Homo sapiens: one gene and its partners. The protein of the gene in region 1 interacts with the protein of each later gene in a pairwise test. Each region holds a gene or a part of one and is shown in the gene's direction. Other genes may lie near its edges.

Region 1 (3,649 bases):
TGCATTAGTACGAGCCAGCAGTGTTCCTTGGTGGGCTGCATGGGACCCGTGGGCCAGACTGGTGAAGCTGTGACATCTTGGGCACCTGCGGCCTTCGGGAGTGATTTGGTCTTGTCTTCAACTGAACCAGCCGCAGTCCCAGGCCCAGGTGGAGCCTGTGGGCCTGGAGATGTTCCTGAAGGCAGCTGCTGAGAACCAGGAGTACCTGATTGACAAGTACTTGACAGACGGAGGGGACCCCAATGCCCATGACAAGGTAGCACAGGTTGGGTGAGTCGGCTGGCAGCAGCTGCAGCTGCAGGAGCGCTGCCTTCAGTGTGTTCAAGTCCTGGCCTAGGAGGCTGCAGGGATTTTCACTCTTATGGGCATGAATCCAGTGGCACCTGCAGACGGAGGAGAGGGAGCGGCCCATCGCGTGGTGGGGGAAGTGGCAATTCCATTCAGGGACCTGGCCCTGGGAAGGGGACCGCGTGGGGTCTCTAGGGGTGGCTGCACTCCCTCTGCCTAATCTTCCATCTCTGCCCTCAGCTCCACCGCACCGCCTTGCACTGGGCCTGTCTGAAGGGTCACAGCCAGCTGGTGAACAAGCTGCTGGTGGCAGGTGCCACAGTGGACGCGCGAGACTTGGTGAGGATGGGGAAAGGCCCAGCCTCTGGTCGACGCCCAGCTTCACATCCCAGCAGCTGAGTGCTTGGGTGCTTTTGTTTTGCAGCTGGACAGGACACCTGTGTTCTGGGCCTGCCGCGGAGGACATCTGGTCATCCTCAAACAGCTGCTTAACCAGGGAGCCCGGGTCAATGCCCGGGACAAGGTGAGGGGCACGGTGCTTTGGGGGCCTGTCGGGAACACGGGAGCAGACGCTGTTCCTGGAGAAGAGAGCACGTAGTCCCATGGGTTAGGGAGGCCTCACCAATCCAGACCCAGCACTGACCCCCACTTGCTCTCAGATCGGGAGCACCCCCCTGCACGTGGCAGTGCGCACCCGGCACCCCGACTGCCTGGAGCACCTCATCGAGTGTGGCGCCCACCTGAACGCACAGGATAAGGTAAGGCAGGCGCTTGGTCTTTTCCGGCTCGGACAGCTCCAGAGGAGCAGGGACTGAGGAGCCCCAGCCAGGACCAGAGGTGCTGTCTGCTCGGTGACAGCAGCCCTGACCTTCCTGCATGAGGAGGGCAGCACGCGGAGGCAGAAGCTTGACTGCCTGCGTTCTCAGCAGGAAGGGGACACGGCTCTGCACGAGGCCGTGCGGCACGGCAGCTACAAAGCCATGAAGCTACTGCTGCTCTATGGGGCCGAGCTGGGGGTGCGGAACGCGGTGAGTGTGGGCGCAGCCCTGGCTCCTGACCCGAGGGCGGGTGGAGCGCCTGCAAGGGACTGACCCACACCGTTGCTCCCAGGCCTCCGTGACCCCGGTGCAGCTGGCTCGAGACTGGCAGCGCGGCATCCGGGAGGCCCTGCAGGCCCACGTGGCGCATCCCCGCACCCGGTGCTGACCGCAGCACCGCCCCCCGCCGCGCCTTTCGCACTGCCACCATTCCATCCTGTGCCCCGCCCCCGCGTCTGCACCTCTGTGGTTCCTGCCCTCAGCCCTGGTTCCTCCCTCTCTGGCCTGTGCCGCCTCAGCAGCCCTGGCAGAACTGAAGAGCGGCACCGGGCCCAGCAGGCAAAGAGAGAGGCCTCCCTGGCTTCGAGTGTCAGGGGAGCCGCGTTCCCTCCCAGGGCTGGAGCAGAGGACCACAAGGCAGCAGAAAGCGCGGGTCCAGATGAGGGCCAGGAAGGGGAGGAGAGTGAGGGCCAAGAACGAGCCTTAAGGGAGCAGTCCCAAGCTGGAGCCACCCAGGGCTGGGTCTGGGAGTCCTCAGTGTCCACTTGTCCCAGGTTAGGGGGCTTGCCTTGCTCTCTCCAGGGCCAGTCTGTGTGTGTGGGGACTCAGCCCGTGGCCGGCAGATGCCATCCAGGATGTACAAGGTGCAGCCAAGGCAGGCCATGCAGGGGCCGGGCCTGTCTGCAGCTGGTGGATGCCTGTGGGCATGGCTTTCTCTGGGGACCCCATTCCTGTCAGTAGCAACCCTGGCAGTGTCCGGAGCGGCTCTAGACAACTTTGGTCATAGGAACTCTGGAGGTGGGTTCTGGTCATCTGAGGTGGCTACTCAACAGGTTTGAGGCCCCACAGCAACAGAAGTCCAGGACCCACTAGGTTGCCTCAGAAGCCCTAAGACTGATGAGCTGGAGCGCGCATTTGAGAGAAGCCTCGCACCCACTGTGTACTGGCCCCGCTCAGGCCGGCCTGGCACACCGTTGCCTGCTGGCGGCTCTCATGGGGAAGCGCCTGGGCACTGGGGATTGCTTGTGGCCCACTCAACTCTTGGGGCAGTGGCCCGTAACCCTAGTTTGCCTGAGGCCCTTATGTCCCCTTATGTTCCTGGTACTGGAGCTTGAGCTCTTGCCTGGAACGCTGCAGCTGCACCCACCCTGCTTGATCCCACCTGGGAGGCCAGGACACTGAGGAGCTCTGAACCCAGCCCACAGGGAAGCAGAGGAAGGTGAGCCCCCGCCGCCCCCCAGCCCTTCCCATCCCTTCCCTGCTCCCTGGTGGTCTAAGGACCCAAGCTCCCTAGACTTCCTCTTCCACCGTCTGTACGTTTCAAATTACACTGGTGTAGGCCTGTACTGCTGGTGGGGCTGGGCCCCTAAACGCCAGAAAGTGAATCTTAAGAAGCTCTGCCCTAAACTGAGAACCACATGCTGAGGGAAGGGCTGAAAGGTGAAGGCTCAGCCTCCCTCACATGGGTCCTGGGTTACATTAGGTACCGGGCTGATTGATAGGCATTTGGCCATGGTTCCTTTTCGTCTACCTTTGGGGGCCTTCTCAGGCCCAGAACAAGGCTGTTGTTACTATGTGGAAAAGCTGACCAGTGCTGCACACTAGGGGCACACACCTTTCCATGAGCAGCTCCTGCCCTGTGGCGACAGCCAGCGTGCACCCAGACGCTGGTGCCATGGCGAAGCAGGCGTTCAAGACCATGGAGAAGACAACTCCTCATCTAGAAAATGAGGACACCTCAGTGACAAACACACCTTTTTATACCAATCAGTATCCTCTGTTCATTAAAACTGGCTATCCATTACAGCCTAGCCGTCTTTCCTGGGCCGAGAGGAGCCCATGCTTCAGTCACCAGGGACTGTCTGATAGGGCCCACGCCTGTTAGCCATGCCGGCCGACAGCAAGATAGGCCGAGTGCAGAGTGGGCGGGATGCGGGGTCCTGGCACTAGGCTTTTGTGCTTAAGGCACCTCTGCTCACTGACGACAAGGTCAAAGAGCAGTGGTTCTCCACCTCAGCTGCTTATCAGAATCACCAGGAAGGTTTAAAAAGTCCTGATGTCCAGACCCTAAGTCAGAAGCCCTGAGGGGAGGATCCAGGTATTCTCATGCAGAGGCCATGCTTGTCTATGTGGGAAATCCTAGGAATCTACAGAAAGCAGACAACTAGGGAGTCCAGCAAAATCTCGGGTGCAAGATAAACACACAAAAACCTGTTTCTACCTCCTAGAAATGAACATGTAGACACAAAAGTTAAAAATATGTACTGTTTACAATTGCTGAAAAAGGGAAATACTTCGGTTTAAATCTAACAAAATATGCAAGG
Region 2 (7,039 bases), on another chromosome or scaffold:
TTAGCTGCAAAGTGCTCCCATCTGATCCTGTTGTTTAACATGTAATTCCAGAGCCCCAGAAGCTGGTCACAGAAAGGACAATGATTTGCCACTCTAATAGTCTTGTATTTAAAACGCTCCTTGGTTGTTCTGTGTTCTGCTGGCTACCCCATCCATAGCAGAGCAGGATTCTCAAAAATCAGGCGAAAACCTCAGAGATCATAATGATTCTGATCAGGTACACAGGCCAGGAAACAATGAGATAATTGTGGCCTAAAACAATTACAAACATTAGAGTAAATTAATGAAAAAGATTAGAACATCATTGGAATAGAATAAGCCAGGCATTACATTTAAACTGCTCTTGAGAGTTTTCCTTTACTCAAAGTTATGTTTTAGAATATTTACCTCCAGTATACAGTTTTGTTTTAGAAAAGACTCGGCTTTATTCACCAAAATGGAATAGATTACAGGCTACTTAAAGTAGGTAGGGATAGAGATAAGAAAATACTACTGGGGCCATTTTGTTCTTTTTGTTTATGAAAAGCAGTGCTTTCTGTAGTTTTTTTGAAATAGGACCATTCAGAGGCATATTTGGTAAATACCACTGAAGTTAACACTCAGAAAAATGTATCTTCCATAGTAGTAAATGCTAGCACCCTGCATGCAGCACAGAAATAAAGTGTGGAGTCTCACAGTGCAAGGGGCCTGAGCTTTAGTTCAAATAAATCGTTGATGTTTCCTGCCTGTTTTCCTTCATGATCATCAGCTGAGGATAGAGGGCTTGCTGACTGGGTTAGTACACTGATCAGATAGTCAGTTGAGCACCGGTTATGTGCTAGGCATTGGTAGGGTGGAAGAACAAAGACACAGAAAACACGCCTCTTTCCCCACACTCTCTACCAGAAGGCCATGCTTGAACTCCCTTCCTCTTCTGCTTTTGCCAGAGCTCAGCTGGCTCCTGCTCTGTGCTATGGGGACCTGGGGGACCTTGGGTTTGGAGAGTAGAGGGAGACCTTAAGAGCCATCCTTTTTTGCCCCCAAGGAATGGAAACTATCACTTCCTTTTAAAAGTCATGCTGTGCTAAGTACTTAAAAGTTATCAGATTTAATCCCCACTGTAGTTCTGTGAAGTAGGTTGTGTTATCTGCCTTTTAAAGATAAGGCTAAATTGACTAATTTGCTCAGGGCAATTTGTAAGGAATTGGCCCTTGCTGCTGGAATCACCGGGCCTTGGTGAGTCAGGAAACTTGCCCTGTTCCCTCCTCCCTTTAACTAGAAGGGCTGGAGTGTTAACAGCAGCTAGTCTGGTTCTTTTTTAGGAACTCACCAGATTATGCTTTATACTGCCTGTAAAAGTCAGTTTGGGAATGTGAATAAGATCCACCAAGCTTTTACATAGGAATGACTTTTATGTGAAATTTGCATTGTACAAACAATAACATGTTACCGTAAGCTGCACTGAACCACTTCTCTGCTTCCCCTACTCTCCGTGCCCCATTTTCTGCAGTTTCCATGAAGTGTTTGCCTGTAGCACAGTCGTCATCTTTGTCTAACCTTTACAGTATGATTGCTGTTGGAATCTGCTTTCCTTAGCACTATCAGCATTACTTTTCCTAGTAGCGTAGAGATCTTTACAGTTTTCATTTTTAGTGACTGTCTAGTGTTTCTAGATGTGTATTTTATGTATTTTCTGTTGAAAAAATATTTTTTTCTTTATTAGAGGAAATAAATATCTCAGGGTGGTATACTGTATATCTTACGGCTTGTGTTGGAGTCTGCACTATTTTTAATAACTCTTTATAATGTATTTAATATCTCATAAAGGGAATGTGCCTGATTTTCAATGGTTAGGAGCCTCTGACACATTGTTTTCCTAGGGCATTTCCCCTTTTGTTGCGCTATATTAGCTGAAAGAAAGCAGTTTTTGCTGAGGTTAGAACCAAGCTTATGATAACTGGACTGAAAGAATGTTGTCTCCTTGAACTTAGAGCATCTCATAGAATGTTCTAGTTGGGGGGAAAGTGGAGAGTAGTCCCAGAAATCTGTTCTTTACATCCGGTCTGCCTAGAAAACCAAGAAAACCTATAAATGTGTCAGTGGACATTTAGTGGAAGTGACTGCAGATTAGGGCTATGGGGAATTTGTGGCAAGTTGGTCTCATTGACTTGGCGGAAGGCAGGGACACCCCATCCACAGCGCCCACATTCATGCTTCCACCTGTGCATCTACAGCAGGTTCTCCAGGGTGACTGCATCCTGCAGCTATGTAGGTTACTGCTCCTGGAAGTCTTCCCATCCATTGCCCCCACCGCTGGCTCAGGTGCTCGCCCTGGGAACTTCTGGAGTACCTGGGCTGACTTCCCTGATCACATTTATCATACCACACTGGAATTGTTTAAAGATTGTTTCTCTTACCCTACCACTTACGACTCAGTTTTCATCAGCTCTCTTAGCATGGTGTCTGGCATATATTTGATGCTTAGGAGACGATGTCCAGCATGTATTAGATGCCTAATAAATATCCATTGAATGGATGGAAGGGCAAAGTAGTATTGTTAGTAATATACTCTTTTAATTAACATTTATATAGCGTTTTCTACTTTTCAGAGCACTTCGCAGGCATAGTTTGGAAGTCATCAGGGCTGGTTCTTTTCCTTCCAGGTAAGTGGTGTAGGGTTGCACTTTCCTGGCCCTGAAACAGTCAAGGCTATTTGACTTGCTTTGGCCAGTGGAATATGAGAAGTACTATATGTCACTTCTAAGTGAATTATTTAAATGCCAGCATACCACTTACTGTATCTCATTCCCTCTGCCACTGCATCTGTCAGCATTCTGCAGAGTGGTAGCTCTATCAGCCCAGGTTCTGGTGTGAGGACAGTGTGGAATAGAGCCTTGGGCTGGCCTGTGATGGACATGTAATGTGAACAAGACGGAAGCCTTTTTTTTTTTTTTTTTTTTTGGTTTGAAGCTATTGATTGAGATTTAGGGTTGTTTGCTACTGCTTTATAGCTTGTCATATCCTAACAGACCAGGGTGCTCCTATTTCAGTTTTGGATTCAATCACTCTGTGGTTGTCATCTGAGTGATCTGGGGTCATGGTAGTCGTGGTAACAAACGTGGGTGGGTTTCTTTTTGATTGTTAGAGTGATGAGGGTGAGGGGAATGCCCCTGGTAAGTGGTTTGGAGTTCAGGGGTATTAAGTACCATGTGGCAGGCAGGAGAGTCCTACAGGATGAAGCAGTTGTTCTGTCCAAAACGTCAGTTGCACCTTGTTGGAAAACACTGAGAACAGACTTGTCCAATTTGATAATCTTTTAGACTCCAGAGAAATCTTAACATTGGCTTCACATGTTCTATCTGCTGACCTCCCTGGAGGAGGAAATTACTTCACACTTCCCAAGTGATTTGGTTCACTTCACTCCCAGGATCTCTGCCAAAATTCCAGTTCATTAGGTACTCATCTGCTGAATAGCTCTTCTAAGACCTGTGTAAATACATATCTAAAATGACTTCCCATTTATTTCTTCTCTTTTAAACATAACATTGACTACCCTGTGGGGCTTTTTATTGTGGTAAGATATACATAATAAAAGGTACTATTTTTAACCTTTCAGTGTTACTAAGTATAGTCACAATGTTGTGCCGCCATCACTGATCTCTCATGAGCTTTTTCATCATTTTAAACTGAAACTCTCTACCTACTAAACAATTACCCCTATGACCTCTTCCTCCAGCCCCTGGTTACTTCTGTTTTAGTTTCTGTCTCTGAGGATATGACTATCCTAGGTATCTCATATGAGTGGAATCATATGGTATTTGTCCTTTTGTCACTGGCTCATTTCACTTAACATTGTTATTAAAGTTTATCCATGTTATAGTATGTATCAGAATTTTTTTTCAATTATTTCTCTTTTGAGACAGGGTCTCACTCTGTTGCCCAGGCTGGAGTGCAGTGGTGCTATCGTGGCTCACTGCGCCTTGACCTCCTGGGCTCAAGTGATCCTCCCACTGCAACCTCTTGAGTAGCTGGGACTATAGGTATGTACTACCCTGCTTGGCTAATTTTTCTTTTTAAAATTTCTGGTAGAGATGGAGTCTCTGTGTTGCCCAGGTTGGTCTTGAACTCCTGGGCTCAAGCAATCCTCCTGTCTTGGCCTCCCAAAGTGCTGGGATTAGAGGCATAAGACACTGTGCCTGACGTCATTTCTTTTAAAGTCTGAATAATACTCTTATGTGTACATACCATCTTTATTTACTCATCTATTTATGTTGTCGGTTGTTTCCACCTTTTGGCTATTGTAAATACCAATGAATAAACATTGGCATACAAATATCTGCTTCAGTCCCTGCTTTCAGTTGTTCTGGGTGTGTGTTCCTAAAAGTAGAATTGCTGGGTTATATGATAATACTAAATTCAATTTTTTCAGAAACCACTATACTGTTTGGCACAGTGGCTGTGTCATTTTATATCATCATAAGCAGTGCACGAGTGTTCCAATTTCTTCACGTCTTTGCCAGCCCTAGTTCTTTCCTGGATTTTTTTTTAATGGCCATTCTAATGTGCATAAAGTGGTATCTCATCGTGGTTTTGTTTTGCATTTCCCCAATGATTAGTGATGTTAAGAATTTTTTTCTTGTGCCCGTTGGTCACCTGTACCTCTTCTTTGAAGAAATGTTAATTCAAGTCCTTTGCCCATTTCTTAACTGGGTTTTTGTAGTTGTTAAGTGAGTTATTTATATATCTTGGATATTAATCCCTTATTAGATATTATTTGCAAATATTTTCTCTCATTCTATATAGGTTGCCTTTTCACTGTCTTGATAGCGCCCTTTGCACAAAAGTTTTTAATTTTGAGGTCTAGTTTATTTATTTTTCTTTTGTTGCCATATCCAAGAAATTATTGCCAAATTCAGTGTCATGAAACTTTTCCCCTGTATTTTCTTCCATGAGTTTTATAGTTTTAGCTCTTATATTTAGATCTTTGATCCATCTTGAGTTAGTTTTTATAGATGGCTTAAGGTAAGGGTCCAACCTAATCCAATTTTCCCAGCACTGTTTGTTGAAAATACTGTTCTTTGCCATTATTCTTGGCATCCTTGTTGAAAATTAGTTAACTGTATATGCAAGGGTTTGTATCTGGGCTCTTTATTCATTTCCATTGATATATATGTCTGCCTTTATGCCAAGACCACACTGTTTTGATTACTATAGCTTTGTAGTAAGTATTGAAGTCAGGAAATGTGAGTCCTCTAACACTGTTCTTTTTTTTTTTTTTCTTTTTTAAGGGATGGAGTCTTGTTCTGTCACCTAGGCTAGGGTGCAGTGGTGCAATCTCGGCTCACTGTAACCTCTGCCTCCTGGGTTCAAGCAATTCTCCTGCCTCAGCCTCCCGAGTAGCCGGGACTACAGGCACATGCTGCCATGCCTGGCTAATTTTTTTTTGTATTTTAGTAGAGATGGGGTTTCACCATGTTGCCCAGGGTGGTCTGAAACTCCTGAGTTCAGGCAGTCTGCCCACCTCAGCCTCCCAAAGTGCTAGGATTTCAGGTGTGAGCCACTGCGCCTGGTCTGTTCTTCTTTTTTAAGATTGTTTTGGCTATTTAGGGTCCTTTGAGATTCCACATTAATTTTAGGATGGACTTTTGTTTTTACGAAAGAAGTCACTGAGAGTTTGAGAAGGAATACATTGAGTCTGTACATAGCTTCAGTTAGTATTGTCACCTTATATTAAGCCTTCCAATCCATGAACATGGGATGGTTCTCCATTTCCTTGTCTTCCTTGATTTTTTCGGGGATGTAGTTTTCAGTGTACAAGGCTTTTTTCGCCTTTTTGGTTAAACTTATTTCTAAGTACTTTATTATTCTGATGCCATTGTAAATGGAATCGTTTTCTTAATTTTCATAATTGTTCATTGTTAGTGTGTAGAAGCATAGTTGATTTTTGTGTTGATTTTGTGTCCTGCAATGTCTAATTGTTAGCTCTAACTACTTTTTGTGTAATCTCTAGTGTTCTCTACATATATAATCACGTCTCTTATAGCAGAGATAAATTTTGCTTCTTCCTTTCCAATTTGGATGCGTTATTTATTTTTCTTGCCTGATTGGTCTGGCTAGACCTCCCAATACTGCGTTGAATAGAAGTGGTAAAAGCAGGCATATTTGTCTAGCTCCTGATCTTAGGGGAAAAGCTTTCAATCTTCCATTCATCATTGAGTATCTTGTTAGTTGCGGGTTTTTCGTATATAGCCTTATGTTGGTGAGTTTAAGTTTCCTTCTATTTTTTTTTTTTCTGATGAGGGAAGGGTGTTGAATTTTGTCAGATGTTTTTCTGCATCAGTTGAGATGATCTTTGTTTTTCCCCTTTATTCTGTTCATAGGGTGTACTACATTAATTGATTTTTATGTGTTTGAACCATTTTGCATTCCTAGAATAAATGCCACTTGGTGATCTTGTATAATCCTTTTGCTACACTGCCGAATTTGTTTTACCTGCATTTTGTTGAGTATTCTTGTATCAGTATTCGTAAGAGATATGGCTGTATAGTTTTCTAGTATCTTTCTCTGGCTTTGGTATCAGGATAATGCTGGTCACATAGAATGAGTTTCAAGTGTTCCTCCTTCTTCAAGTTTTTGGAAGACTTTGAGAAAGACTGGTGTTTGTTCTTCTTTAAATGTTTGGTAGAATTACCCATGAAGCCATCTTGTCCTGGGGTTTACTTTGTTGGGAGGGTTTTGATTACTACTTAAAATCCTTATTTCAAATATATTCAGATCTTCTGTTTCTTCATAATTTAATCTAGCTAGGTTGTTTGTTTCTCGGGATTTATCCATTATATCTAGATAATCCAATTTGTTGGCATACGGTTGTTTATAGTACTCTTAAAATCCTATTTATTTATTTATTTATTCATTTTGAGACGGAGTCTTGCTCTGTCGCCCAGGCTGGAGTGTAGTGGCACAGTAGCGGCTCACTGCAACCTCCGCCTCCTGGGTTCAAGCAGTTCTCTGTTTCAGCCTCCCAAGTAGCTGGGATTACAGGCGCCCACCACCAAGCCTG
Region 3 (7,039 bases), on another chromosome or scaffold:
ACCCATTGAAATTTTATAAGAAGATTTACTTTTGCCACAGTTGCCAGCTTTATTTGCCTTCTACAGAATTTTCTGTATCATCCACCTCACGCCGCATATACCGGTGTCGTAACTGCATTAACCTTCAGAATGAGGCTCAAAAACGAGAATCATTTTTGAAGTACAAATGTTTACTTCAACAGCTCTACTATACAGAAGCTGATTATGAAGATGATTCTAAAATTGCTTTCTTGATGCAGGTATGGTCAATAAGGGGTGCCAATTATAGCTGAAGCTTGTCAAGGAGGCTATCTTGCAATCTTATGTATGTTTGTGTGTGTGTGTGTGATTGTTTAATGACTCTCTATTCCACTAGACTGTAAGCTCTGTGAGGGCAGGAGTATGCTTTTTTTCCCTCCTGCTCACCATTATACCTCTATAACCTAATACAGTACCAAGTTTTTATTTAAGGCCCTCAATATTTGTTGAATGAATGAATGACTTTTACAGAAACTGATGTTACATATACACATACTAGTGTTTACGAATAACAGTAATAATTAGTGTAAACCAAATGTGACCATAATGGTAAATAACACCAAAAGTGAAAGCTAAGGCTTATAGAAAGTAAAAAAAAAAAAAAACCTTAGGGAAAGGCTTTGATACTTGTCTATGTAAAGTGTTGATATGATACCACACAACTGGAAAGTTTCTGGCCAGAGTTCTTTTGGATGAATCATTGCATTGGATCATTGACCCTACGTAATCTGCTTCTCGTAAGAACTTCTAGCTCTGTGAGAGGGTGGAGCCTGTGAGATCAGGAATTCTGACCTGAATTCCTAACTTAACCACTACTTCGGTCTCTTTGGTTATTCCATGTCTTCTATTGGGTTTAGGCCAGAGGATAGTCTGTGTCTCTACAAAATAAAAACAAATTCCTGACACTGTTTGGACTTAGGTAAGCAAGTGAGAAAACAGAAGGACTTACTTGTTGTTGATATGGCTACCCAACATTAGCCACTTATTAATAAAAGTATATTATAGAGCACAATTGACCTCATTAATGATATTTGTGTTCACAGACTGTCAAATAAGGGCAAATTTTCTGTAAATTAGTTACTAATTAAAATGAACTAAATTGTATTTAATACCAAATAGGAAAGTAGGCACTACTATGAATAGAAAACTTTATAGAGATTAAAAAAAAGATACCAAATGTGATGTGCTTTGTTAAAAAATTCTTCTAAATCCATAGCTTTCAAACTTTTAAATCTCAATCTATAGTAAAAATGTATTTTTATGACAACCTGATATAGGCATGCATGATAATTCTCAATACTCAGTACCTATATGGCTTTACACACTTTATTGAGTTAATCAGCACAAAAATCCTATCAAAATAGGCATTATTTCCATTCTGCAGGTGAGGAAAGGGAAGCACTGAGTGGTTAACTAACTTGTCCAAGTTTACGCTACTAAGTACCAGCACCAGGATTGAAAACTAGGCAGTCTGATTCCCAGCATCCGTACATGTAAACACATGCTGTTCTGCCTCAGAAATAAAAGTTTCCAAAATAGTGTTTATCTTTACCCCTATGGATGTACTCTGATATTTTCTATTCAATCTCAGTCTACTTATTCTGATTTCCATTTGGAAAACTTTGGTATCACCCAAGAGGTAGCAACCCACAGTTTGAAAAGCACAAATTAAAATGATTACATATTTTGTCCAATAGAATGAATATTTTGTTAATAAATTTGATGTTTATTTCAGCTTAAATTCTTATTTGCTACTTTTATTCAGGAATTATTGACATGACAGATGTATATTTCCTTGTAGAGAATCTTAGATGTACTAGGGCTTTAATGTAAGTCACCAAGAAGTGCTGGCTCAATATTCCATGTTGTATTAGTCAGATTTCTCCTGAGAAACAGAACCAATAGAAAATGTTATACATATATGTTATATATATATACATATAAGGAGATTTGTTACAAGGAATTTGCTCACATAATTGTGGAGGCTGGTAAGTCTAAAACCTAAACAGCTGATGGCCCAGTTCAAGTCTGATGACCAGCAGGCTGCTATAGAGCCAGGAGGAGCCAGTGTCTCAATTCAATGGCCATTAGGCAGAAACAGTCTTCCTTACTTGGGGACAGGGTGAACTTTTTGTTCTATTCAGGCCTTCAACTGATTGGATAAAGCCCACTCACATTATGGAAGACACTCTGCTTTACTCAGTCTACTGACTTACTTAAATGTTAATCTCATCCAAAACTACCCTCACATAAACACCAGAATACCGTTTGACCAAATATCTGGGTATCCGGTGGCATCATCAAGTTGATGTAAAATCAACCATTACACATATTGAATGAAAAAATTCTAGGGGAGCATTGTAACCTTTCAGATAAGGATAATCTCCATTAGATGTGATTTAATTTCAGTACCGTATCTATGTAGGGTTTTGGTCTATTACTTTTCCAATGTCTAGGATTAGCAGACAAATATGAGTGTCCAGTAGCTTCCCCCCCCTTGTAATTGGTGTAGTTTTGATTAATATTTATTTCAGTAATAGTATTTGAGGCATAATTTGAATGTTTGAACATTCTCATAAATAGTAAATCTTGTGGACAACAGCAAAGATTAGCATATGTTAAATGTGAACATGATGCCATGTAAAATGAAAAGGTGAAAGTTAATATATATAAAAAGTAAACATTCTGCTTAGACAAGAGATTTGAGTGTTGTACTAGTCACCTCGTTTATCTGTAATGCATACAAATACTGCCTAATATAATAGGCAATAGTATTGCTCTGTTACTGCAAAAATTTCAAGTACAATGACTACTTGAAAGGTAGAAAGCTCTTAGAGACTGTCAACCACACTTATGTGCACATTTGACATTTACATGCAAATAAACACGTTATTCTGTATGATACAATTTCAAAATTATTAGTACAGTTGAGCAACTAAATTAAAAACAAAAATGTAAACAAGATGCATTTTGAATGTAAGTAAAATATATAAAACATTGAATTTTAAAGGTCTATAAATTTATTTTTCATAGCAGCTGTGTACAGAGTATTGTCTTTTTTAGCATTAAGTAAAAGCTAGAATGCATTAGTTGAGCTTAATATATTGAATTACCAATTTATGAAATACTGTTGTAGCTGATGATGACAGGTTCTTTTTGTTTTTTACTTTGGCAGATTGTTTAGGTTTTGTGTACTCATTTTACAGAAAATATTTCTGCTCTCACACTTTTTCACAGAAGCTTTTTTAAAAAATATTCTTTTTACATGCTTATACTTTGTTGAGTTTGTCCGTCTCTGGCAATTCTAAATTTATAATGCAGACCCCATGATAAAAAGTCATTCCAAGAGTTTTAGCTGATAAGATTTACGTTTTTTAAAAAGTTTTAAACAGCTATTTCATTACCCCTCTTTTTGATTAAAACAACCAAGTCTTTTAATTAACACTAAGTGAATTACTTATCTTTATTAAATCTCAACTTCCTGTGTTTGCTTCAGCAGCCCATATACTGAAATTGGAACCATATAGAGAAGATTAGCATGGCCCTTGGACAAGGATGACATGCAAACTTGTGAAGTGTTCCATATTAAAAAAAAAAAATCTCAGCTTCCTCATTTGTAAAATGGCAGTAAAAGGTTTTAAAAGGTCCCTACAATGGCCCTGAAATTAAGATGGTACTTACTAATGAATTTTAAAGATCATTCAATACCATATGTTTATTATGGTAACATTATAGTATTATTAAGATTATATTCAGGTAAAATTAGCATACTGAAATGAATTTATACTGCTTACTCTGGTTTAGAGATGGGGACGCAACTGTGAGACTGATAATGTAGTTTAGGCAAAATGAACAGAAGTTTAGTGAAAAATAAGGGGCTATGTGTCATTGAAACCTAGTGAATAATAATTCACTTAAAAATACTCTATAATTTAATTATTTGCTCAAGTAATATAATAATCTTAAACAAATTTAAACTACATTGTTTTTAAAACTTGCTTTGACATGCAGCTACAAGACATTCAGTACCTGACAGAGAACATCTGGGCGTCCCAGTCAGTCCTCAGTGCTTGCGACAATCTCAGTGATCTGGTCATGGTCAGATGGAATAAATCCCTGGAGTGGTCCCCCTGGAACTGCATTCTTCTTACCAAAGATGAAGCAGCTGCTCATCTCAAGCTAACAAGTATTGAAGAGGTAAGAAAGTTGAATTTTATTTGGGAAGTTAATTTAATCATTGGAATTATTAGCGATAACTGGACTGCCTTCTAATATATTCCATGCTTAAATACTTCCATCAGATTAAGAAACAGAACTTATGGATTAACAACAAAAAAATTTATGGATGGCATATATGGCACAGATTAAATAAAAGGTATATATAAGAGATTTGAACATATTACAAGTCCTAAACATCATACCAGTCTCTCCTAATAGTAAGTTTAAGCACATTCCACGGTAAATTCCATGAAGGCAGTGATTTTGTTTGGCTTATTTACATCTATTTCTCTAATACCTACAATACTGCCTGTCACAGAATGGAGTTTATAAGTATTTGTTGAATGAATAAATGTGCATTACCACCAGATAGGTATTATGGAACCCAGAATCTGTCCTTCTTTGATTAATTATCATGAGTCTGCTTAAAAACACCCAACTCTCAAATTTTGTTCATAATTTTGTGCTCTAAATAGCAATCATACTGATGGGGTGTAGTTCTGATGCTCCATTTTTCATTTGCTTCCAACTTGCTGGGAGTGGAGCAAGCACTGTAAACATTAAATGCCATTTACTGTAATTTTAGTAACTTACATGATGCAATCTGTAAAACATTTTGATGGGTAAGTTGAGGGACTCCTGAAGAGTTCGTAGAGAGCTCCATTTACACTAGGTCCAGGATCCCGAGAGTTAATACTGATTCTCTGCATTCTTTAATTCCACACAAGGTGTCAGCTAAAGGAAAGTAAAGAAATGACAAAATGCAGTAGTCGTTTAAAATAGTGTGATTCCCTGTTTGTTTTTTTTCAGTGGAACAAGGGGTGATGAATATAAAGATAAGAAACTAGCTAAAGTTTTAGTTTTTAAATATTTTTTTAGTTTTAAGAAGCCAGGCTAAGAAAAATTTCACTCTAGGGATTGAAAGAAAAGGTAGCAATAAGTTGAAGCTGTATTAAATGTTATATTTAGTAAACTAAGCTGCCTCATAAATATTTAATCACAGGAAGCATAGTCAATACTAGCAATATCATTTCATCTAGGACCCATGATGAGATTGAAGTTCATTCCCAAAGCTGATATTCCAGTGCTTCTTCAATTAATCCACACAACTCCCTTTGTGCATTTAATCAAATTACTGCAGTATCAAATTAAATGTTCTATTCACATGCATTTCTAATTTAGAATGCCAGTCTTATCGAATTTCTGTAAAGGGCACCAAGATTTGCAAGCAGACAAACTGGAAAAACATTTGCCTTTTTTATGGTTTTGGGCTGATACAATCTTTTAACTATTAACTTTCAGCCCAGTTAAAGAGTAGTTTATATCTTGCAGAAAGATGGAGCATTTTCAGAATTTTCTTAATGTTCAGAGATATTTGCTTTCTTAAGAAGTTAAAAAAATACTTGCAAGTTAATATGAAACAGGTATAGGAAACGTGGAAAAACACTTTCGTTAATGTGAACTTTAAGTGGAGCAGATTGATCTCTCCTTGTGTGCACACTGGCCAAAGTAGGAACAATCATGGACTTAAAATCAGTAATCCTGACCCAGTTAACTCAAATCTCTGTCACTGACAACTTTACATTAAAACCTTCCCTCTTTGCTTCATAAATTTTTAGAAAGATTAGCTAAATAAGTGGAATCAGTAAAGAGGATAAAAGCAGCTCTGGCTCTGAATTCTAGCTTTACCATTCATGAGCTGGGAGAAATTGGACAAATTTGTGAATGTCTCAATGACCCAGCTTTCTCGTCTATAAAAAAGAGATAATGGTATCTCATCATAGGGAAGCTTTGAGTAGGCCATTATTTAAAGCTTTCTGCATAGTTTTTTTTGGCATGAATAAACTTAGGTAGTAACTATGAAAGCACTTTAAAAATTTTTGATGCATTTTATTTTTAATTTTAAAGCAATATATTATTGGCTTAGAATCTGAACAGAATAAAAAATGTAATGTAGAAAGTAAAGGTCTCAGAGGTTGAGGGAACAGGGAGAGATTTGTTAAGGATACAAAAATTATAGCTAGATGGGAGGAGTGAGTTCTAGTACTGTTCTGTGGCACTGTAGGTTGTCTATAGTTAATTACAATATATGGTTTCAAATAGCTAGACGCAGCATATCGAATGTTCCCAGCACAAAGAAATGATAAATGTTTGAGATGAATATGCTAATTACTCTGATCATGATATATGTATCATCCCATCACTATGTACCCCGTAAATATGTACAATTATTATCAATTTAAAAAATTTAAAAAACGACTGAATGAATAAATAAAGGGAGGCAAATAGACAAATCTCCCATGTAGAATTCCAAATAATTTATGTAGATACTCTCCACTCTTAAGGAGATGGAGAATAACTCTCTACCCTTTAAATGTGGGCTGTACATAATAACTCCTTTCCAAAGACTATATTATGGATGGAAGGGGAGGACCTTTACAGTAGAGAAACTTGACAAACACTACCTCAGCCAGGTAATCAAGATTAACAGCAGCAGTGCTGTCATGCTGATGGTGTGTACCCTTGATATGATGTGAGGAGAAGGGCACTTCACCCCTGTGGTCTTCCTCCCCAAAACCCATCCCTTCAGTCTAATAATAATGAAGAAAACACAGGACAAACCCAGATTGAGACACATTCAGGAAAATGTGGGTGTGGGGTATATGGGACCTTTCTGTAATATTCTTAGAACTATTTGTACACCCAAAGAATTTGTGAACATAGTTTAAAACCATCACATGGCTATTTCAAGAGAATGGACCTTATTTCAATGGGAAAAAAGGTCTCTTGATGTCCACCCATC
Region 4 (7,039 bases), on another chromosome or scaffold:
TGAGTAAGTTCTAGGGACCTAACTCACAGCATGGTGAAGACAGTTAATAATAATGTATTGCTTACTTGAAATTTGCTAAGAGAATAGATCTTACATGTTCTCACAGCACATACACACAAACGCAAAGGGTAACTGTGTGGTGATGGATATATTGATTAATATGATTGTAGTAATCATTACACAATGTATATGTATATGAAAGCATCATATAGTACACCTTGAATCTACACAATTTTTATTTGTTAATTGTACCTCAATAAAGCTGGAAAAAAGATTCACATTCTCTGAGAAATTTTATTTAATCCCTTCAAACTGAGAGACTGTCCTCTATGCTGTGGGTAACTCTATTTTAGTTCCCATGTAAATGTGTTTATTTGTCTCCCCTCCTGATCTTTATCTTTGCATTTCCAACATTTAGCACACTGCCTTGATGCAAAGTCGAGGCTCAGCATAGGAGAGGCTCAACATAGTACAGGTTGAAGGAATGGTTGAATTAATTAACTGATAGCTTAAAGCCCTCCACTTGTATTTTTTAAAATAATATTCCTAAATATATTTTGTTCTCTTGCCAGGGTTAAAACTCATATGTTACTTCTCTACCCACTTGCACAGACTTTAAGGTCTTTTTAAATCCCATCTGTGTGTTTCTTCGTCAGCTGGAAACATTTAATGTCTTCTTAACTTGGAAATCTCCTGTGAGCTTTCTTCTGGAGCATTTAAAAAAAGATTATAAATAAGTATCAATCCTTGAGGAGCTGAATTCTTTATACTTCTCCATCCAAAGAAATCCCTGATTAACTTTACTGTTTAATGCCTATTTTGACTTTATGTAAAATTTTAGGGTAAATGGACAAACAAGAACCTTTGAACCTATGGTATCATCAGTTAAAATAAAACAACTACAAACACCACTACCACAACATACATTTAGGAGGTGACAGTCATTAATTTCTCTTTTATCTGTGTGCCTATTTACTACATTAAGTTTATCATGCTTGATGTCCTTTGGGAGAAATGGTCATGCCTTGTCAGTTTTCCTTACATAAACTCTGCCACCTGCCCCTTTGCCCCTGTCCACTGCTGTAACGTTATATTTGTTATGTTCACTGATCTAGTCCTTTTTCGCAGGCGTCAAGGACTTGCTATTTGGGCTCATGGATTCTGTAATTGCCTTGGGCAGAGATGACAAAGCATAGGCTCCAAATTCAAAATACATTTGTATTTTTAACATTTCAAAGTCCCCATGGCATTAAAGTTACTACAATTTACCATCAGATTACACATTGCTACCATTAGAGCAAAAGAAATAATTTTAACTTTAGCTTCTTGATTATAATCTATGTTCAAGTTTTTCACCTTTCAGAAACAAACTAAACCTTGACACTGTCCTTCTAAATAAAGAAGCATAATGTATAGGTCACTTCAGAGAGAATTATGTATTAAGTTGTGATTGTACAGTAATATCAGAGAATTTGCCTTACCTTTTTCTAAATATTTATACTTTTAATTATTACTCATCTGAGGAGCTGTGCATCCTTTCTAAACATTAAACTATTTATCCTCTAAGTTACACTGATGACTGTAGGTAGAGCTTGTACAACGTTGTGGGAAATACAAAAATCACTAAGATTATCAGTACAGAAACAGTACACCAAGTTTGACAGATGTAAGGAATAAAACAATTCCGTATTCTTTCTACACCTTTTCTCTATTTTCCACTTATATTCCATTTCTGATGTGCTATGTACTCAATCTTGTGAGAGGGTCGGCAGAAGTATCATTATCCCATTTTTACAGATAGAAAGACAGACACCGAAAGAGATGAGTTACCTAGCTCACAGTGCTAATGACAGAACTAAAACTAAAACCCAGACCACATATACAAGGGGGAAATCGTAGCAAGCCAAGAAAACCATAGTGTCTTTTCTTGGGTGATTAGTGACTATGAACAGTGGGTTGATAGCTACTTCTAACTGTCCTCCCTACATTTTGTAACGAAGTTAATCTCTCCAAAGCCTGAGTGAAGTAGCAGACAGTGTTTATTTTCAGAAGGGAAGGAACTAAAAATATAGTAGCACAAGCCATTTATTAACCTCATGCAACATTATTCCCAGAGTAGCAGAGTCTTGTGAAAAGGCATAAGGTTAGCAATCAGTAGACTTAGGTTTAGATCTCTGTTCCTTTACTAGTTTCTATCTCCTTGCACCAAACACCTGTTTAGTTAAAATAGGACTAATAATAGCAGCCTCATTCCCTCAAAGACTATTGTCATGATCAGTAAGATACTGTATAGAAGCACTTTATAAGCTACATGATATTATACAAATACAAGTCCTCATTCTGTGTAGCAAATAAGAAATTTTTCCACTTTGGGAGGCCGAGGCGGGCGGATCACAAGGTCAGAAGATCGAGACCATCCTGGCTAGCATGATGAAACCCCGTCCCTATTAAAAATACAAAAAATTAGCTGGGTGTGGTGGTGGGTGCCTGTAGTCTCAGCTACTCAGGAGGCCGAGGCAGGAGAACTGCATAAACCCAGGAGGCGGAGCTTGCAGTGAGCCTAGATCGCGCCACTGTACTCCAGCCTCGGCGACAGAGCGCGACTCTGTCATAAAAAAAGAAAAAAGAAAAAAATTTTTCCTATGTAGGAAATAATGTCACATAGTTTTTAGGATAAGGGCTTGGAAGTTATACTGACGTGGGTTACAATACAAGAAATACCACCATCTAGCTCTGCCACTTGGCTAAGAAACTTAGTCTCTTGAAACCTTAGTGTTTTGAGTTTTAAAATGGGAATAATCACATCTCTCATGAGTTTTTATAAAGATTATATGAAATGTTGTATATGAAGTGAATGAACTATTGTAAATGTCCCTTGAATTAGTTTTTTTTAACTTAAGCTTTTATTTGGGAGTAATTTTAGATTTACAGAAAAGTTGCAAAGGTGGTACAGAGAGTTCCCATTTACCTTTTTTCCAGTTTTCTCCATTGTTAATGCTGTATCTTACATTTGCCACTACAAAGAAATGGATACTGATGCATTGCTATTAACTATTAATAATGGTTATTTGGATTTCAGCAGTTTTTCATGAATGTTTTTTCTGTTCCAGGATCTAATCCTCAGTACCACACTGCATTTAGTTATGTCTCCCCAATCTTCTCTGTTCTGTGACAGCTTGTCAGTCCATCTCCTGTTTTCCATGATGTTAATGGTCTTGAGGAATACTGCCCAGGTGTCATTTAGGATGTTCACCAATCTCATTTTGTTTGTTGCTTTTCTCATGATTAGACTGGAATTATGGGTTCCTGGAGGGAATACCACAGAAATGGCATACTTTTCCTGTCACAGTATATCAAGGGGTACATGATATCCATGTGATATCACTGATTATGTTAAATTTCATCACTTGGTTAAGGTAGGGCTTGCCAGATTTTTTTCTTGTATATTGAGCTAGTTCTGATCGCCTATCACTTAGACAGGGCATTCTCTTTCCTCTCTTCTCTCTGATGTAATGCTATTCATTTACATTTACTGCAAATTGTCATCTCTGAAGAAATACCTTCTCGGACCATTCAGCCTAAAGCAGCTTTTCCTTTCAAGTCAATCTCTATGACACTTCACTTTTGTGTTTTCTTCATAGCATTTATTGTCACCTGAAATCATCTCGTATATTTGTTCATCTAGTTCATTGTTTGTCTGTAGGCCCTTTCCCCCCAAAAGAAAGAAGAACAAGGTCCTTGTAGGATTTTTTCATATCTGTACACTGGAGTCCAGCACAAGGGCTAGAATATGCTAAGTGCTCAGTAACTAATTGTTGAATAAATATCAAAGAAAGAATGATATAGGATTAATTTATTAGTATTTCTGAAAAAGAAAAATAGCTGAATGGTGGGAGGTTTCATTAGTGTTCTTAACTCAATTGGTCTAATTTTAACGGAGAGGTTAAATGCAATTATCAACATCTATGGAATGAGGTAATCAGCATCCTTGTAATTCAAGCTCCCATGTAATGCACTTAATAATGTGAATGCCAGAGTATTTTAGCTACTTATAAGGATTTGACTGACAAGGACTTGACTGAATAGTAATGGATCTTTACACATCTGCTCTACGGGGACCTTTACTTATTAACTGTGTCATTGTTTATACTGCAGAATTTTTAACAGAAACTGAAAGAATGTAGAAATAATAGATGCCCTTGATTATAACTTATAGCTGACTTCTTCATGTCTATTATCTTTTCATTTATACTTACAAAAAAAGAAGCTTTTTAATTTAAGTCTTTCTCCCATAACCCATTGTAAGATACCACTCTTTTTATTTACCTTCTCAGGACTTAAAATCTCCAAATCAGAGAGATGAAATTGCAGGAGCCCGAGCTTCACTGAAGGAGAACTCTCCCCTCTTGCATTCAATTTGTTCAGCTTGTTTGGAGCATTCTGATGTTGCTTCCCTCAAAGCAAGCAAGGACACAGTTTGTGAAGAAATTCAGAATGCTCTCAATGTAATTTCAAATGCTTCACAAGGGATCCAGAATATGACAACCCCACCAGAACCTCAGGCAGCAACCCTGGGAAGTGCCCTTGATGAGCTGGAGGTAAGTCGGGAGAAAGATAAAGTGTGATCTGATGTCCTAATACAGTAATAATAATAATAAAACAGAAGAAGATCCACATGTTGGCGTTTAGAGCATGAGAAAATAAAAAATCCAGATTAGTCTCTATCACCTTCTTGAGTCTTCCAAAGAATTGATTAACAGGAAAGTACTCTGTTAGTAAACTTCTGACTCCTGTACATCTCTGCCAAGGAATCCAATGAATTTGAAGTGGGATTGTTAATTAGATCGAAATGATGACTTTGTTTTATGTAGATCTACTTATGAAGCATAAGATTTATTCACTCCACAAATACTTATTGGCATTACTGTTCTATGTGCTTGGGACATATCTGATCACTTCCCTTGACAAATTTTTACATTTTAGCAGGTGATTATAGGCAAAAAATAAAACCAATAAACACTGTAGAGAACAAAATTGTATAGATGTTACACTGAGAAGGTGAGATAATGCCAAAGCCTTGAAAGAGTTCAGGAATCGGGCAGATGAAGATCTAGAGCAAAGGCTTGAAGGTATGTGCCCTGTGTTTAAGTGACAACATAAAAACCAGGGTGTCTAGGTGAAGACAGCAAAGTGATGAGTAGCAGGAGCTAAGGTTGGAGAACCAACCATTTAGGAGTGTGTATGCCTTTAAGGACTTTGGCTTTTACTCCAAGTTAAATGGGAATACACTGAAAGGTTTTAAGCAAAGGTGTGACATGCTGCGACTCGTGTCTTAAAAGGACTATGATAGTTGCATAAGGAACATAGACTGAAGGAGAACAATGAGAGGAACTGAAAAACCAGGCTGGAGGCTATTGTAGTAACCCAGGTTCCATTTATACACTTTACATGAACCACCTCATGTTTTAGTTTAGACTAGAGTGGTGTTGGTGGACATCAGTGCTAAATTTTGTAAATAGAGTCAACTGAATTTTGATAGAATGGATGTGGGACATGAATGAAAGGAAGGAGTCATGGCTAGTGTTGTAGGCTGGGTCCTCCAGAATCACACACAGAATGGAGTTTGGAAAACAAGGTGTTACATTTGGGAAGGAAAGAGGGAAGGAGCGGGACTGGATAGAGGAAGAAGTCTACCTGACAGCTAGACCCGCAAAGCCTAGGCCAATCAGCAGGGAGCTCTGGTGAGAGCATTGCCCTCCAGAGTGTACCTTGTCAGGCAGAAATGGCCAGGCCTGTATGTCTCTTTCAGTCACTGGATGCAGGTTACTCTACCCTGGGAAGGGTATGACCTTTAGGGGCCTGAAACACTCTATATACACACTGAATATGTATTACTTTTGCACCATGATAAAGCTGGAAAAAATTATAAGTTGAACCATTGTTAAATCAAGTCAGGGACCATCTGTAGTCTGTATCTGGGGAGTGCCGAGTGTGATACATTGAAATTTGTTAGAGTAGATAGATAGGATCATACGGGTTGAGCATCCCTTATCTGAAATGCTTGGGACCAGAAGTGGTTTGGATTTTGGAATTTTTTGGATTTTGGAATATTTGCATATACCTAATGAATTATCTTGGGAATGGGATTGATGTGTAAACATGAAATTCATTTATATTTCATATATACCCTATACACATAGCCTGAAGGTAATTTTATACAACATTTTAAAAATTTTGTGCATGAAATGATGTTTTGACTGCATTTTAACTGCGACCTGTCACATGAAGTTAGATGCTGAATTTTTCCCTAGTGCCATCACATTGGCATTCAGAAAGTTTTAGATTTTGGAGCATTTTGGATTTCAGATTTTTAGATTAGCAACGCTCAACCTGTATAGCACATTTTTCACAGTACTAAAACACAATTGTGTCAGAGAATGCTCCCATAAGAGCTCCAGTTTATCTCAGACAATGCATTCTGTATTTTAGGATTAAAGAAGAAGACATTTCCAAATTGTTCCTCCTTCTGAGACCTCTTCTCTTTTCTCTTTTTAGTTGAAAGTGACTGCCACAGGCACAAAATGGCAGTGGTTGGAGAGGAGGAGAAAGTGTGCGTGTTATGTGTGTAACTTCAGTGGGAGTGGGCATAGGCAGGGCAACAGTGTTCTCTTAAGAAAGGCAGACTCAGTTGTTCTTCATGAGGCGGGAAGGGGTCCAAAAGATATTTCTCTGAGATCCTAATGAGGATTCTAAACTGTCTGAACAACCTTTGAAATTTAGTTCTAGTCAAAGGTACAGATGCACAAACTAGTAAAAAATGCCTAAGTTTTCTATATTTTTTATATCCAAGTTACAAATAGCTGCTGTGGCTGACTGAACTAGATAAAGCAGAATTTATTGAGCATTTAACCTTTTTTAATGATTTGGTAAATTAAATGGTTGCACTTTTCATTATTTACAGGAAGCTGTATTGGTAAAGGATCCAAAATAACCTTTGCTCTATTTTGCTCCTGCAAATATAATACTATGAAGTAAATTG

The links.
Region 2: the proteins of ANKRD23 (region 1) and CDCA7L interact in binary tests that used the Homo sapiens proteins (3 or more experiments, as listed by UniProt).
Region 3: the proteins of ANKRD23 (region 1) and IQUB interact in binary tests that used the Homo sapiens proteins (3 or more experiments, as listed by UniProt).
Region 4: the proteins of ANKRD23 (region 1) and CTNNA3 interact in binary tests that used the Homo sapiens proteins (3 or more experiments, as listed by UniProt).

Annotation. Positions count from the first base shown.
Region 1 is NC_000002.12:96,837,394-96,841,042, reverse strand, and holds the end of ANKRD23 (ankyrin repeat domain-containing protein 23), read left to right. Parts: intron 1-130; coding exon 131-256; intron 257-528; coding exon 529-627; intron 628-712; coding exon 713-811; intron 812-947; coding exon 948-1,046; intron 1,047-1,217; coding exon 1,218-1,316; intron 1,317-1,398; coding exon 1,399-1,494; 3' UTR 1,495-3,131; downstream 3,132-3,649. UniProt on the Homo sapiens protein: May be involved in the energy metabolism. Could be a molecular link between myofibrillar stretch-induced signaling pathways and muscle gene expression.
Region 2 is NC_000007.14:21,935,865-21,942,903, reverse strand, and holds part of CDCA7L (cell division cycle-associated 7-like protein), read left to right. Parts: intron 1-2,588; exon of another isoform or gene 2,589-2,642; intron 2,643-7,039. UniProt on the Homo sapiens protein: Plays a role in transcriptional regulation as a repressor that inhibits monoamine oxidase A (MAOA) activity and gene expression by binding to the promoter.
Region 3 is NC_000007.14:123,454,557-123,461,595, reverse strand, and holds part of IQUB (IQ motif and ubiquitin-like domain-containing protein), read left to right. Parts: coding exon 1-239; intron 240-4,029; coding exon 4,030-4,215; intron 4,216-4,319; coding exon of another isoform or gene 4,320-4,403; exon of another isoform or gene 4,404-7,039. UniProt on the Homo sapiens protein: Adapter protein that anchors the radial spoke 1 (RS1) complex to the A microtubule of outer doublet microtubules in axonemes. The triple radial spokes (RS1, RS2 and RS3) are required to modulate beating of the sperm flagellum.
Region 4 is NC_000010.11:67,217,166-67,224,204, reverse strand, and holds part of CTNNA3 (catenin alpha-3), read left to right. Parts: intron 1-4,334; coding exon 4,335-4,598; intron 4,599-7,039. UniProt on the Homo sapiens protein: May be involved in formation of stretch-resistant cell-cell adhesion complexes.